Linked DNA regions of Homo sapiens. The protein of the gene in region 1 interacts with the protein of each later gene in a biochemical or structural test. Each region holds a gene or a part of one and is shown on either strand. Other genes may lie near its edges.

Region 1 (5,036 bases):
AAGACAGGCAAACATTAAAGTCTTTATACCCTTGAGCTACTGAAAGTTACATGGGAGGAATTAAAGAGGATTATTAGCTTTCCTGATTATTCAGCTAAAGACATAATTATGGGATTTAAAAACTGTTCATTTTTGCTCAGTGAAGAGGCAATAAGGTATTCACAGCTGAAATGCAAAGTTGGACAGCTTAAGAAACATTCAGGAAGGAGTCCAAGGTTACCCAGTTTGGTCTTGGGCTGATAATGGCACTCTAAACATTGCAGGCTGAGCAAGTCAAAAGACACCTGATGCCAAGTGACATCTCAATGAGTGGTCGGTGGTAGGATAGAAGCCTTGATGGAGTGGGCTCCACTTCATTCTATAACTTGGAGGGTAGGGGCTGTGGGCCTATTAAGCATTTCACTCTAGGCCTTCCAGAGCCTTTGTTCAGAACCATGCTGCTTATTAAGCATCATTTGCTGTCTCAGTCAACAAGTTGGAAGAGAGGAGGCAAGGAACAGGGGCCACAGTGCAGACTGTTTTCTAATCTAACCGGGGAAGCAAAGCACCTGCATAGGCAGAATATTCCCATCAGGAACCTCCCAGGCAGTTACTGGTTCTGGATAGGAGATGGTGTGAATTCTTAGCATCACTGGGGGCCTGGAGGAGGGGCAGCTTTGCCAGCATAGACAGAGTGACCTTGGACAAAGATCTGTGTGTTCAGCAAGCAAATCCTCCATGTTTTCCTAGGCAATCTTAACATCAAATAGTTCATATATTTCTGCTTTACCAATCATCAACGTACCCCAGAAATGCCAATTCGTGCACTCACTAAACCTCCCAGACAGCCTCTTTAACCCATTTGCAGCACAAAAATCCATTGTCAGACCACAGCTTCTGACTGCTACTTGGAAAATTAAGGTGGCTGTGCCTATGGAGCCAGGAATAACTGGTGTTGTTATGACTTCCTCTCTGATAGTGGAGAGTACTTGGGTGTTACAGTGAGGACATGGTTCTCTCAGCTCTCTTATATGGCCAGCATATTACAGGCAGCTTAAAAGTGGCCACCTCGGGCCAGACCAAGAAAGGGGCTGTATTAGTCTGTTTTCACGCTGCTGATAAAGACATACCCAAGGCCGGGCACAGTGGCTCACACCTGTCATCCCAGCACTTTGGGAGGCTGAGGTGGGTGGATCACCTGAGGTCAGGAGTTTGAGACCAGCCTGACCAACATGGAGAAACACCATCTCTACTAAAAAATACAAAATTAGGCCGGGCGCGGTGGCTCACGCCTGTAATCCCAGCACTTTGGGAGGCCAAGGCGGGCGGATCACGAGGTCAGGAGATCGAGACCATCCTGGCTAACACGGTGAAACCCTGTCTCTACTAAAAATACAAAAAATTAGCCGGGCGAGGTGGCGGTCGCCTGTAGTCCCAGCTACTCGGGAGGCTGAGGCAAGAGAATGGCATGAACCCCAGGGGGCGGAGCTTGCAGTGAGCCGAGATTGCGCTACTGCACTCCAGCCTGGGCGACAGCAAGACTCTGTCTCAGAAAAAAAAAAAATTAGCCAGGTGTGGTGGCTCATGCCTGTAATCCCAGCTACTCAGGAGGCTGAGGCAGGAGAGGTTGCAGTAAGCCGAGATCATGCCATTGCACTCCAGCCTGGGCAACAAGAGTGAAACTCTGTCTCACAAAAAACAACAACAACAAAAGACATACCCAAGGCTGTACAACTTACAAAAGAAAGGTTTCATTGGGCTTACAGTTCTACATGGCTGGGGAAGCCTCCCAATCATGGTGGAAGGCAAGGAAGAGCAAGTCATGTCTTATGTGGCTGGCAGCAGGCAAAGAGAGAGAGCTTGTGCAGGGGAGTTTCTCTTTTTCCATCAGATCTCATGAGACTTATTCACTATTGTGAGAACAGCATGGGAAAGACTTGCTCTCATGATTCAATTACCTCCCACCAGGTCCCTCCCACAACATGTGGGAATTCAAGATGAGACATGGGTAGGGACACAGCCAAAGCATATCAGGGGCAAACTCCCCAAGAGGAATCAGTAGGGTACAACCATGGCATGGCTGGAAACTGCTGAGCAACTTTACTCACACAGGAGAATCACAGAACAAGCATGCCTTCATGCAGAAGGTGCCAATAGTCAGCTTAACATGAGATATACTTTGGGCTGTTCTCAAAGCAGTTCAGTTTCATGAAAACCTGTATTGATTACTTATGCAGTGCTGAGTACTGTAACTGAGGTCTATCCCAGCTCATGGAGCAAAATCAATTAATTTTCCCCCACTACCTGGTGTCTTATCCATTTCCAATTTAATCAGAGATGTGTTCTGTTCTTACTATGTGTCTGGCTCTGTGGACAGAAACTGAATGAAAGTGTCTGCTCTCAGCAGGTACACGGTCCAGCGGGGAGAGACAAAGAACAATAGTACAGTGAGGGGGATGCTGTACTGGGGAGGGCACAGGTATCTTAGAAGCCCAACAAGGGAGACACTTACTATCCCCTTCATGGTATTAATAATCAACATTGATAATCCTTCAGGGGAGTTGGGGAAGGAGTTGAAGGAGGAGCAGCTGTTGACTGGGCAGAAGAGGTAGAGAAAGTACATCAGGGAGTGCAGACCCTTTGGGAAGTAGCAGCAGCTCACTGTGACACTGGTGAGAGGAGGGCAATGAGGCTGTAAGTTAGGTGGGCTAGGCCAGCCGCAAATGGCCGTGGGAGCTGTGCTCTGGAGTTGGACACTGTTCTGGAGATGGAGGGCAGCCACTGAAGACAGGGAAACTCTTGGCAGTGGTAACAGTGGCTGGGGGAGGGAGCAGGAAAAGCTCTCAAGCACTATGGATAGTGTTTGCTCAAGAGATGATGAAGGCATGAAGTGGGGCAGTAAGAATAAGGAGGCAGGAAAGGGAGAAATTGAGAAATAGTGGAAGGTAAAATCATTAGGACATGTGGAATGAAAGAGTAGGAGGAACCAAAGATGACTTTCAGGGCACAGGTATCCGGGAGATGAAGAGAAAAAGGAGATCCAAAAACTAGCACCAGGTTAGCCGAGGGAATGAAAGGTCCCACAGAGGGAGTGGCCCTCAGTGTCACACACAGCACAGAGGAACATTTCCAGAGAATGGCGCCCAGAGGACTGAGGAAGGACGGGAAGCAATGGGGTAGAACCAGTAGATGTCCACAACTACATTAAAATGTCTGGCTGAAAAGGGAGGGAGAGAGGTAGTGATGAAGTTAGGAGGACATGAAGTCAAGAAAAGAGTCTTTTGTTCTTTTAAAACAGGAGACTTTGTGTATCGTGTGTGTGTGTAACATGGAGGAAGTTTCCAGAAGAGAGAAAGGAAGAGCTCAAAAATGCAAGAGATAAATATTAGCGAGGTGTAGCTCAAGGGTCAGGGCAGCAGTGGTGAGCCCAGGAGGGAAAGTTCTCAACGGCTCTCAGTAGAGTCAAAAGTGTGGCAAGTCCCTGGGAAGCACAATCTGACAGGCGTGAGGTGCCAACCCAGTGCCATGGGCTGTGCAAGACTCTGAGAATGTAGCAAAGAGTGAACACACTTGGCCTTACCTTTTAAGTTGGGTCGGTGCCCTGACCCTACCTCCCACCTTGCCTCCACTCCTCCCTGTCTGCCTTTCTCTGGTGCTATCTCTGAAGTCAACCCACCACATGCAGCAACAGACACTACAGATAGGATATCCCTGAAAAAAAAAAGACAATTAATCTAACCACTCACCCTGCCATCAGGAGCGGCACTGTTAGGAATGATACAGATCTGCTCCATAGAGGAACTGGGTTTGTGATAGGCAAGTAAAGGATACTGGTGTCTCCTGGGAAACATGCTGTGACCTCAATATGGGCTATGTATCTTGGTTATTGGAAATATATGTATTCTCATTGTTACAGACTTAATTTTTTAATACCAATGATTTAAGGAGCCAGACTTAAGTACAGAAAGGTCTGAAGAAGCGTTTCTTAAATTAAATCCAAACTCTTCAGTAAGACAAGGCCTGATTAAGAGTAGAATGTGTGCTAACTATTCAAAGAGCTGTAGGTTTTAAGCGCCTTTTGAAATCTCACTCTGCTGAGATCATTTAGTTCAAGTCAGTACTACAATTGTTTGTGACTGTCACCAATAAAGCCAGAGGTCACATAAGAACTGGTTAAATTGCAAGACTGCAGCAGTGGCAGGAATTGATGTCATTTAGATATAGTGTTATTATTATTTTTTTTTGTTCGGGTGCTGGGCTGTAGCGGACACATCAGGAGGTAGGAAAGATAGAACAGAGGATATGCCAGCAATTTAACATGCTCATGACCCTCCCCAGTGATGCTCTTAAACTGGTTAGGTTTCTGCAGACCCTGCCAGGATCACAGAAAAGGCCAGCCCTCTGTAGGATGCAGGAGGGGAGGGGTGCTTTTCTCCTTCCAGCAAAAGGAAGCAACTCCTACTTCCCTCAACCACCTTTCTCATGGTGGGCAATCCAAATTACTGAGCAGGGAGCCATGGCCTGACAGACCTGCTCTAAATACTCAATAAGTCAGGGACAGAAGGGGCCAATGTCAGAACCAGGAGGACCCATTTCTCCCCCATAGAGCCAGGAGTTGTCTCCCTTTTGCTTCCCTGTGCTGGAAATGAATGTTTATGATGGCTGCAAGGGACAATGTGTCAAAAATATTAAATGCAGTTTTCTAATCATAACCTGTTTTTCCCTAATATATAAGCTTTTCTTCAAAGGACACAATATTTTGAACAATGTATTCCAGAAAACAGCCACCACTACTGAAGTGAGTTAGAAAGTTTACTTCTTCTTAATAATGTTATGTTTCCCATATGATGGCTGGATACTCACAGTTGGAGGAGTTTCTTGTTTGTTTTTTTAGCTAAAAATCCTAGAGTTGGCCGGGCGCAGTGGCTCATGCCTGTAATTCCAGCACTTTGGGAGGCCGAGGCGGGTGGATCACTTGAGGTCAGGAGTTCGAGACCAGCCTGGCCAACATGGTGAAATACTGTGTCTACCAAAAATATAAAAAATTACCTGGGTGT
Region 2 (4,268 bases), on another chromosome or scaffold:
CCAGAGGCCCGTTAGGTGGCAAGTGGGTCAGGCAGTGGGTGGCAAGGGGGTTCCCAGTGTCTCCTGCTGCCACCCCGGCATCTCCCGATGGGCCCCAGTGAGTCAGGGCCATGTGGCCCAACTGCTGGTTCCTTTGGGCTCTGGGCCCCTCCCCTGGCTAGGCCTGTGGCCTCCCAACTCCAAGCTTGAGTCTTCGAGGTGGTAGAGGAAGTGGGGGTGGTGGCGGGGGTCACAATCCCTCACCCAAAGGGCGTTTGCCCAACTCCCCCACTTCCCCTGCCTCACCCCACCCACCCTGGAACAACAGTTGTATTTCCCAACCACCCAGGGCCACCCACCTTCCTCTTCCTCAGCCCCAGCCCCACTCCAGGTCATGGGCCCTGGATTCTGGGCCAGCTGGAGTCAGCCTCCTCCTCCTGGTTCCCCATAGGCCCCTGAGGTGTGTGGCGGACCCCTGCTCTGGCAGCTGTGGACACTGTCCAGCTGTTCTCCAGAGCTGCCCATCTGCAGGCTGGGTCTGCCCTCTGCCCTTCCTCTGGGCCCAGGGCTTCTGGCAGTAATCATACCCTGCTGGCATCGTGTGTGTGTGTCTGTGTGTATCTGCCCTCACCCCAAAGTCTCCTTCACCTCTGAACACCCCCTGGGACCCTGGGCAGAGAGGGCCTCATCCACATCCTACCACTGGCCAAGAGGGGGTGTCTACCTCCTCCTTGGCCCCTGCTACCCCGTGCTGCCAGACCCTGACCCCAAAGCCTGGGATCGGCCCCTCCCGCACAGCCGTGTGCCCAGCGTGGCCACTCTTCTACTCACAGACAGCAAGGCCATCGTGGACGGGAACCTGAAGCTGATCCTGGGCCTCATCTGGACCCTGATCCTGCACTACTCCATCTCCATGCCCATGTGGGACGAGGAGGAGGATGAGGAGGCCAAGAAGCAGACCCCCAAGCAGAGGCTCCTGGGCTGGATCCAGAACAAGCTGCCGCAGCTGCCCATCACCAACTTCAGCCGGGACTGGCAGAGCGGCCGGGCCCTGGGCGCCCTGGTGGACAGCTGTGCCCCGGGTGAGGGGGCGCAGAGGCAGGAGAGACTGGGCTGGGGTCACCCATGGGTGGCCCTTGAGGGGGTTCTGCGGCCCCCAGACTCACAGCCTCCCTTGCGCCACAGGCCTGTGTCCTGACTGGGACTCTTGGGACGCCAGCAAGCCCGTTACCAATGCGCGAGAGGCCATGCAGCAGGCGGATGACTGGCTGGGCATCCCCCAGGTACACCCGCCCGGCCTGGCTACAGCTGTAGGGGACCGGATCGGCAGTTGGGAGAGACTCGGAGGCCCGATGGCTCCTGTTTTCTGCCTGTGACAGGTGATCACCCCCGAGGAGATTGTGGACCCCAACGTGGACGAGCACTCTGTCATGACCTACCTGTCCCAGTTCCCCAAGGCCAAGCTGAAGCCAGGGGCTCCCTTGCGGCCCAAACTGAACCCGAAGAAAGCCCGTGCCTACGGGCCAGGTGAGGGAGCCCCACCAGGGGTGCACCCGTGTGCCAACGTCTTCCCCATAAGACAGTGTCCCATCTAAACGTGGCGGTCCCCAGGGGTCTTGGGTTACATGGCGGCTAGGTGATCAAGCCACCCAAGAGTCAGACAAGAGTGGGTTTTTGGGACTAGTGAAAACGACAAGAGAATGCTAATAGGTTCCTCCAGTCACAGAAGCCTGCTGCGTGGGGTCCTCGGGGAGGTAGCATCCAGCGGTCTTTATTATAAATGGAGATGAACCAGGTCTCAGTAACAGGGACCTAAAACCCAGTCAAGGCTCACACAGGAACAAGGGCCCAGTGCGGTGAGAATGAATGTTCCAGAAAACAGGCTGGGCCTGTCCCAGCAGCGAGAGCACAGCTGGGTCCCGAGGCCAGGCTCTGTGCCACAGCTCACACTGAATGAACTTGCCCAGTTTGGAATGTGCCTGACTTAGGGGCCAGCAGGGAGGGCTGAAGGGTGGAGGGGTGAGGCTGTGGCCTTAACAGCTGGCCCGTGGTTGGCTCGCCTTCCCCTGCCAGGCATCGAGCCCACAGGCAACATGGTGAAGAAGCGGGCAGAGTTCACTGTGGAGACCAGAAGTGCTGGCCAGGGAGAGGTGCTGGTGTACGTGGAGGACCCGGCCGGACACCAGGAGGAGGTAGGGCCAGCTGCTGGCAGCAGAGGCCCCGCAGCGCTCCCTTTCAGTGGGGCTGCTCTTAGCAAAGGCTCACAGGCTCCTTCCCACTGCAGGCAAAAGTGACCGCCAATAACGACAAGAACCGCACCTTCTCCGTCTGGTACGTCCCCGAGGTGACGGGGACTCATAAGGTGAGCCCTTGGCCAGGGGGGAGGCTTGTGACCTCAGGCAGTGGCTGGAGGCCCCCAGCCCTACCCTCACGGCCCACCCTTCTGGGGACAGGTTACTGTGCTCTTTGCTGGCCAGCACATCGCCAAGAGCCCCTTCGAGGTGTACGTGGATAAGTCACAGGGTGACGCCAGCAAAGTGACAGCCCAAGGTCCCGGCCTGGAGCCCAGTGGCAACATCGCCAACAAGACCACCTACTTTGAGATCTTTACGGCAGGTGAGGGGAGGCTGCCAAGGCCCAGCTGGTCTGTGGGGAGAGCCGCACTGGGGCCTGGGAGCTGAGCAGGTGCCTCGTGGCAGGAGCTGGCACGGGCGAGGTCGAGGTTGTGATCCAGGACCCCATGGGACAGAAGGGCACGGTAGAGCCTCAGCTGGAGGCCCGGGGCGACAGCACATACCGCTGCAGCTACCAGCCCACCATGGAGGGCGTCCACACCGTGCACGTCACGTTTGCCGGCGTGCCCATCCCTCGCAGCCCCTACACTGTCACTGTTGGCCAAGGTAGGCCCGGCCCTGACTGCCCTCTGCTGTGGCACTGCAGTCTGGGCCTCCCACAGGAGGGGGACCCCCTGGGCCAGTCCCGCTGCAGCCCGCCCCGGGGCCCCTACTCTTTGAGCTTCTACTGTCTGGGCACATGCTGTTTTTCCTCCCCTGCTGGGGCCCTTCCTCCTCTCCTCTCCTCGCCCCTCTCCATCTCTCTCCTCACGCTTTCACCTTCGGAAGAGCTCGCTCCAGCTGTCTAGAAACCTGCTGCTCTCTGCTCTGCCCACAGGGTCAACGGTACTTGGATCTGTCTTCTTCTTGGAAGGGGGAGGGTGGGGGGCTCTGGGCTGGTGTGGAGCAGGTGGGAGGAGGCCTGCCATGTCCTGGCCCAGGCCACAGTTCCTGGGGTCACAGTCCCTTCCAGTTCTGTCTTGCATGTCCCCCTCCAGCCAAGCTCTGAGGGACCCACCAATCCTGACAGCCCGGCCCTGTGGGAGGCAAGGGAGGGGTCGCCCAGCCGAGCTGCTGGTGCTCAGCTGGCCCCTCTGCCTGCAGCCTGTAACCCGAGTGCCTGCCGGGCGGTTGGCCGGGGCCTCCAGCCCAAGGGTGTGCGGGTGAAGGAGACAGCTGACTTCAAGGTGTACACAAAGGGCGCTGGCAGTGGGGAGCTGAAGGTCACCGTGAAGGGCCCCAGTAAGTTGGCCTGGAGCCAGGCCAGGATGGGTGGCGGCAGCCCCCGGGTTCACTGCTGGGCAGGCCTGAGGCCCTCCTTGTCTTGGCAGAGGGAGAGGAGCGCGTGAAGCAGAAGGACCTGGGGGATGGCGTGTATGGCTTCGAGTATTACCCCATGGTCCCTGGAACCTATATCGTCACCATCACGTGGGGTGGTCAGAACATCGGGCGCAGGTGAGGCCCCCAGGCATCCCTCTCCCAGCTCTGCACACTCTGCCTCTTCTCTTCCTTCTGCCTCCCCACCTGATGATGAGGGGCCACATGGGCTCTTCCTGCCTGGCCGCCACAGTGGGGCCCACGCTGGCTCATGTGGTGATCCTCGGTGTTCCCTGTGTGGCTCTCGCATTTGCAGTCCCTTCGAAGTGAAGGTGGGCACCGAGTGTGGCAATCAGAAGGTACGGGCCTGGGGCCCTGGGCTGGAGGGCGGCGTCGTTGGCAAGTCAGCAGACTTTGTGGTGGAGGCTATCGGGGACGACGTGGGCACGCTGGGTAAGTTGGAGGCTGCAGCATGGGCACCTGGGGACAGACGATGGCAAGGACGGCCCACCCTGAGGCTCCAGGGCACTGAGGGGACTGGTGGCTGTTGTCAGGCTTCTCGGTGGAAGGGCCATCGCAGGCTAAGATCGAATGTGACGACAAGGGCGACGGCTCCTGTGATGTGCGCTACTGGCCGCA
Region 3 (4,268 bases), on another chromosome or scaffold:
CCCAATGCTCTTCTTGAAAGCACTACTGCATTATTATTACAGACTAATAAAGCAAAACATTTTCACAGGGAGGAAAAAGCCACAATCATGGTTAACAATTTTCAAGTGTGTGAAGGGCTAAACTATAGGAAAAGCAGACTTACTTTGTGTTTCTCCAAGAATTAAATAGAAGTGGGTGATGGAAGCTACAGGGAAGCAATGTGTGCATGTATAGACAGGGTTCTTGAATTAGACAGAATGTTAAAACTAAGTGGATCTTCCAGGATCTCTCTGATTTTAGGATAGGAAGATGAAGTGAAGAAGAGAAGTCAGTATTTATTGACTATAATTGCACTTTATTAGACCAACAGCAAGACATTAGTGTTAATTTCAGAAAAGCCAGAATCTTACATAATCCTTAGATTATTATGAAGATACTAAATAAAAACAAACAAAACAAAATCCCCCAAAGACCTGTCTCCATAATAGAGATAACAAAACAAAACCGATTAAAAGATAGTTAGCTCCAAGGTATACATCTGGGAAGAGGTATAACTGCCTAATTTGCTCTTCCTCTGTAGAACTATTTGCTGATCATCTTCCATTGTCCCCTCACAACCACAGGCACTTCTCATGGCTAGAAATGCAGGGTCTTCGTTCCCCTTTCAGTGGATTCATAATTACCCTATTCAGCAAAATTGAATAGACATGGTGCTAATATTTAAAAAATCCTATCTAGTAAATGATAAAGCACCAAACTAGGGGGCTGGGAGGACGAGATCTATATTAAAAGATTTGTTCCCTTCTTTTTCCTTCTGTGAAGTCTAAGATTTTACCTATCAAATTTACTTGAACCTACAAAAGAATGTTAAAGTAAAGCTTAAGCTGTACTTTTTCTTGATTACTTCCTTTATCAATTGCCTATCTAAGAAGCAGGGAGAAAAAGACAAACAAAACAGAAGCTTTTGCCTAGAAGCAGAGAAGGAGTAAGTTTAGGTATAGGTTTACTCCCTAAATGCTTGTAGAACATCATGCACAATTCACAAAGTAAACTTTTATTAGAACAAGGTACTTCCTGTGATTTTAAGAAAGCGTAGATATTTAGATAGTCCCTAACTGGCTATAGCTGATTTGCCCCAAAATATTGAAACTTGATAAGCTCTTTATTAACATAATTTATCAACATCTTCATCCCAATGAAATAGTAATATTAATATTGAGTTCCTATCATGTTAGAACCTTCTCAGGAAGGTCTGATAAAATGCCTATTCAACTTGAAAACCTGCCTACAAAATAATGTTCGTCCCATAAAATACTAACACGTATCTCATACTTTCAGCTCGTATGTATCTTCCCTAAAAGACACGAAGTCCAAAATAAAATATAAATACTTTTGTTTCTGAAAAGAAAATAAAATTAAAAGAGTAAACAACTCACTGTTAGGTTGTCTCTAAGCAACTGCATGATGAGGGTGCTGTCTTTGTATGAGTCTTCATTCAGTGTATCAAGTTCAGCAATGGCCTCATCAAAAGCCTGATAAATATTAATATCCATGGTAAAATATGTGCATTGACGAAAACTGGTTATTCTACAATTACAAACCATTTTTACAAAATAAGTGAACACCCACCTTATGTTCTACCATCAACAAACTCAACAGAACCATTCTCTCACACTCCCAGTTTAAGAACTTATGAGTATGACTGGAATTTTATAAAACTATACACTTAGTAAACAAGCATGTCTTGGTTCTTTCACAGGACAACGGAACAGCAGCAATGCTTAACAGACTTCTTTCCAGTTAAGTAGTACTTATCTCTACAGGGTCCTCTTTATTCTCTCGTTTTGAGCCACTTTGAGGAATGTGGCTGATGCACAGCTATTCTAGTAACCAAACCTGGCAGGCATGACTTTCTAATCTTTTATGTTTCCTTCTTAACATCATTTATCCTTCTTTGATTACTCTGCTCAGTATGCTCTGTAGGCACATCACTGCTTATAATCATAGGGTAGAGTAAGGTGTCAGGGGTAGGAGTAGGTAATCATGATGGGAAGAAAAAGAGGAGATTTCAAAATAAATATAGTAGAAATCATCCCTGGGTATCCAAGTAAAATACCTATAAATTAACATACCTGGTATCTCAAATAACTGTAGCTAAAGTACGTATTTCCTGGACACACATCTTACCGTTTTAGCCAGCGTGCAGGCAAGCTCTGGGTTATTAAGAATCTCATAGTAAAATACAGAAAAGTTAAGAGCAAGCCCCAGGCGGATTGGGTGTGTGGGTTGCATCTCTTTCTTGCTTATATCAAATGCCTCTTGGTAAGCTCCTTGGGAATTATCTATCGTTTCTGTGAAGAGCGAAAAATAAGAAGTGCAATATTAAAAATAACCATCCAGTACACAGTACATTAACAACTTGAACATATGCTACTAGCTCTTGGTAGAACCAAGATTTTTTCTCTGTATGGGTCTTTTAAAATCATGGTAGCTAACAAAAAACATTATCGTGGCCAGGCGCGGTGGCTCACGCCTATAATCCCAGCACTTTGGGAGGCCGAGGTGGGTGGATCACTTGAGATCAGGAGTTCAAGACCAGTCTAGCCAACATGGCGAAACCCCATCTCTACTAAAAATACAAAAATTAGCCAGGCGTGATGGCGGGCATCTGTAATCCCAGCTACTCAGGAGGCTGAGGCATGAGAATCGCTTGAACCTGGGAGGCTGAGGTTGCAGTGAGCCGACATCACACCACTGCACTCCAGCTTGGGCAACAGAACGATACTCTGTGTCAAAAACAAACAAACAAAAACAATATTGTGTACTGGGTATTTAAGAACTTGTTTATGGCCAGGTGCAGTGGCTCATGCCTCTAATCCCAACACTTTGGGAAGGTGAGGCAGGGGGATCACTTGAACCTGAAGAGTTCAAGACCAGCCTGGGCAACACAGGGAGATCTTATCCCTGTCTCTACAAAAAATAATAATAATAAAAAATAGCTAGGCATGGTAGTGCGTGCCTGTAGCTCTAGCTACTTGGGAGGCTGAGGTGGGAGGACCCCTTGAGCCCAGGAGGTTGAAGCTGCAGTGAGCCAAGATCATGCTGCTGCACTCCCAACCTCAGTGACAGTTTGTCTCAAACAAACAAACAAAACAAAAAACCAGTTTAGAATGTTGCTTACATATAAACAGCTTAATGGAAAAAAAACATGAGATATTATAGTAAATCAGACTTTTTTCCATACCTAGGCTAAAACTATTTTCTTATTTTATGTCTTTTAATTCTATTACTTGGAAATGCAGCAATTAAAAATAATTTGACTGGAATAATTTACAGTGGCTCACGCCTGTAATCCTAACACTTTGGGAGGCTGAGGCAGGCAGATCACCTGAGGTTGGAGGTACAAGACCAGCCTTACCAACATGGAGAAACCCCGTCTCTACTAATAATACAAAAATTAGATGGGAGTGGTGATGCATGCCTGTAATCCCAGCTACTTGGGAGGCTAGGCACAAGCCTCACTTGAACCCGGGAGGCGGAGCTTACGGTGAGCCAAGATCGCGCCATTGCACTTCAACCTGGGCAACAAGAGCAAAACTCCATTCAAAATTAATAATAATAATAATAATTTGACTGGAATACCCTTTCCCTAAATAATGTAAACTTTACAAAGATCATCAACACCAAAATCTCTATTTTTCTGATTTGCAGAAATACTGATTCTTAGTATCAAGTGGTATTATTTGAAAGGCAATATAAAAGTTTCAATAAATAGGACAAAATCTGCTCTGACCAGAGTTTGATTACTAGCCTAATTAAAATGTTACTCCCCCTTCAAAAAATGTTCAGTATTACCAACACTAATCTGATTATACCCATGTTTTGAAAAGGGTAGTTTTCTGTATGAGGCCACTGGCCTATTACAGCTTTAGAGATACTGACGTAAGAGAATTAAGCTATCCCTTTATGACCTGAATTATGTTCATTTTCTTTCCTCTGAAATGGCACATTTATTGATCTAATCCCTGACTGGTACAGCCCACATGCAATAAGAAGTTCTTGCAGCTTGGCAAATTAGGAAGCACCAGTGTCTCAGCAATTAGGCTATAAAGACAGCCTATCTATGAATCGCAGCCTATCAGAATGTACACAGGACTACGTGTGAGACCTGAAAGTGCCAATGAGCTCCTAAGGGTTAAATCAGGTTAAAGCTACAGCTATGTCTCAATCTCCCAAATACTTCTCTTTGGCTTTCTGATACTTAAATGTACAGTTCCGTGCCCGTATC

The links. The genes of interacting proteins can lie anywhere in the genome.
Region 2: the proteins of MTNR1B (region 1) and FLNA form a complex in vitro, tested with the Homo sapiens proteins (one large-scale study listed by BioGRID).
Region 3: the proteins of MTNR1B (region 1) and YWHAQ form a complex in vitro, tested with the Homo sapiens proteins (one large-scale study listed by BioGRID).

Annotation. Positions count from the first base shown.
Region 1 is NC_000011.10:92,971,115-92,976,150, reverse strand, and holds part of MTNR1B (melatonin receptor type 1B), read right to left. Parts: intron 1-5,036.
Region 2 is NC_000023.11:154,364,635-154,368,902, reverse strand, and holds part of FLNA (filamin-A), read left to right. Parts: intron 1-812; coding exon 813-1,061; intron 1,062-1,164; coding exon 1,165-1,262; intron 1,263-1,358; coding exon 1,359-1,506; intron 1,507-2,052; coding exon 2,053-2,171; intron 2,172-2,263; coding exon 2,264-2,341; intron 2,342-2,432; coding exon 2,433-2,595; intron 2,596-2,678; coding exon 2,679-2,879; intron 2,880-3,416; coding exon 3,417-3,554; intron 3,555-3,643; coding exon 3,644-3,767; intron 3,768-3,945; coding exon 3,946-4,082; intron 4,083-4,183; coding exon 4,184-4,268. UniProt on the Homo sapiens protein: Promotes orthogonal branching of actin filaments and links actin filaments to membrane glycoproteins. Anchors various transmembrane proteins to the actin cytoskeleton and serves as a scaffold for a wide range of cytoplasmic signaling proteins.
Region 3 is NC_000002.12:9,585,998-9,590,265, forward strand, and holds part of YWHAQ (14-3-3 protein theta), read right to left. Parts: intron 2,332-4,268; coding exon 2,168-2,331; intron 1,513-2,167; coding exon 1,417-1,512; intron 1-1,416. UniProt on the Homo sapiens protein: Adapter protein implicated in the regulation of a large spectrum of both general and specialized signaling pathways. Binds to a large number of partners, usually by recognition of a phosphoserine or phosphothreonine motif.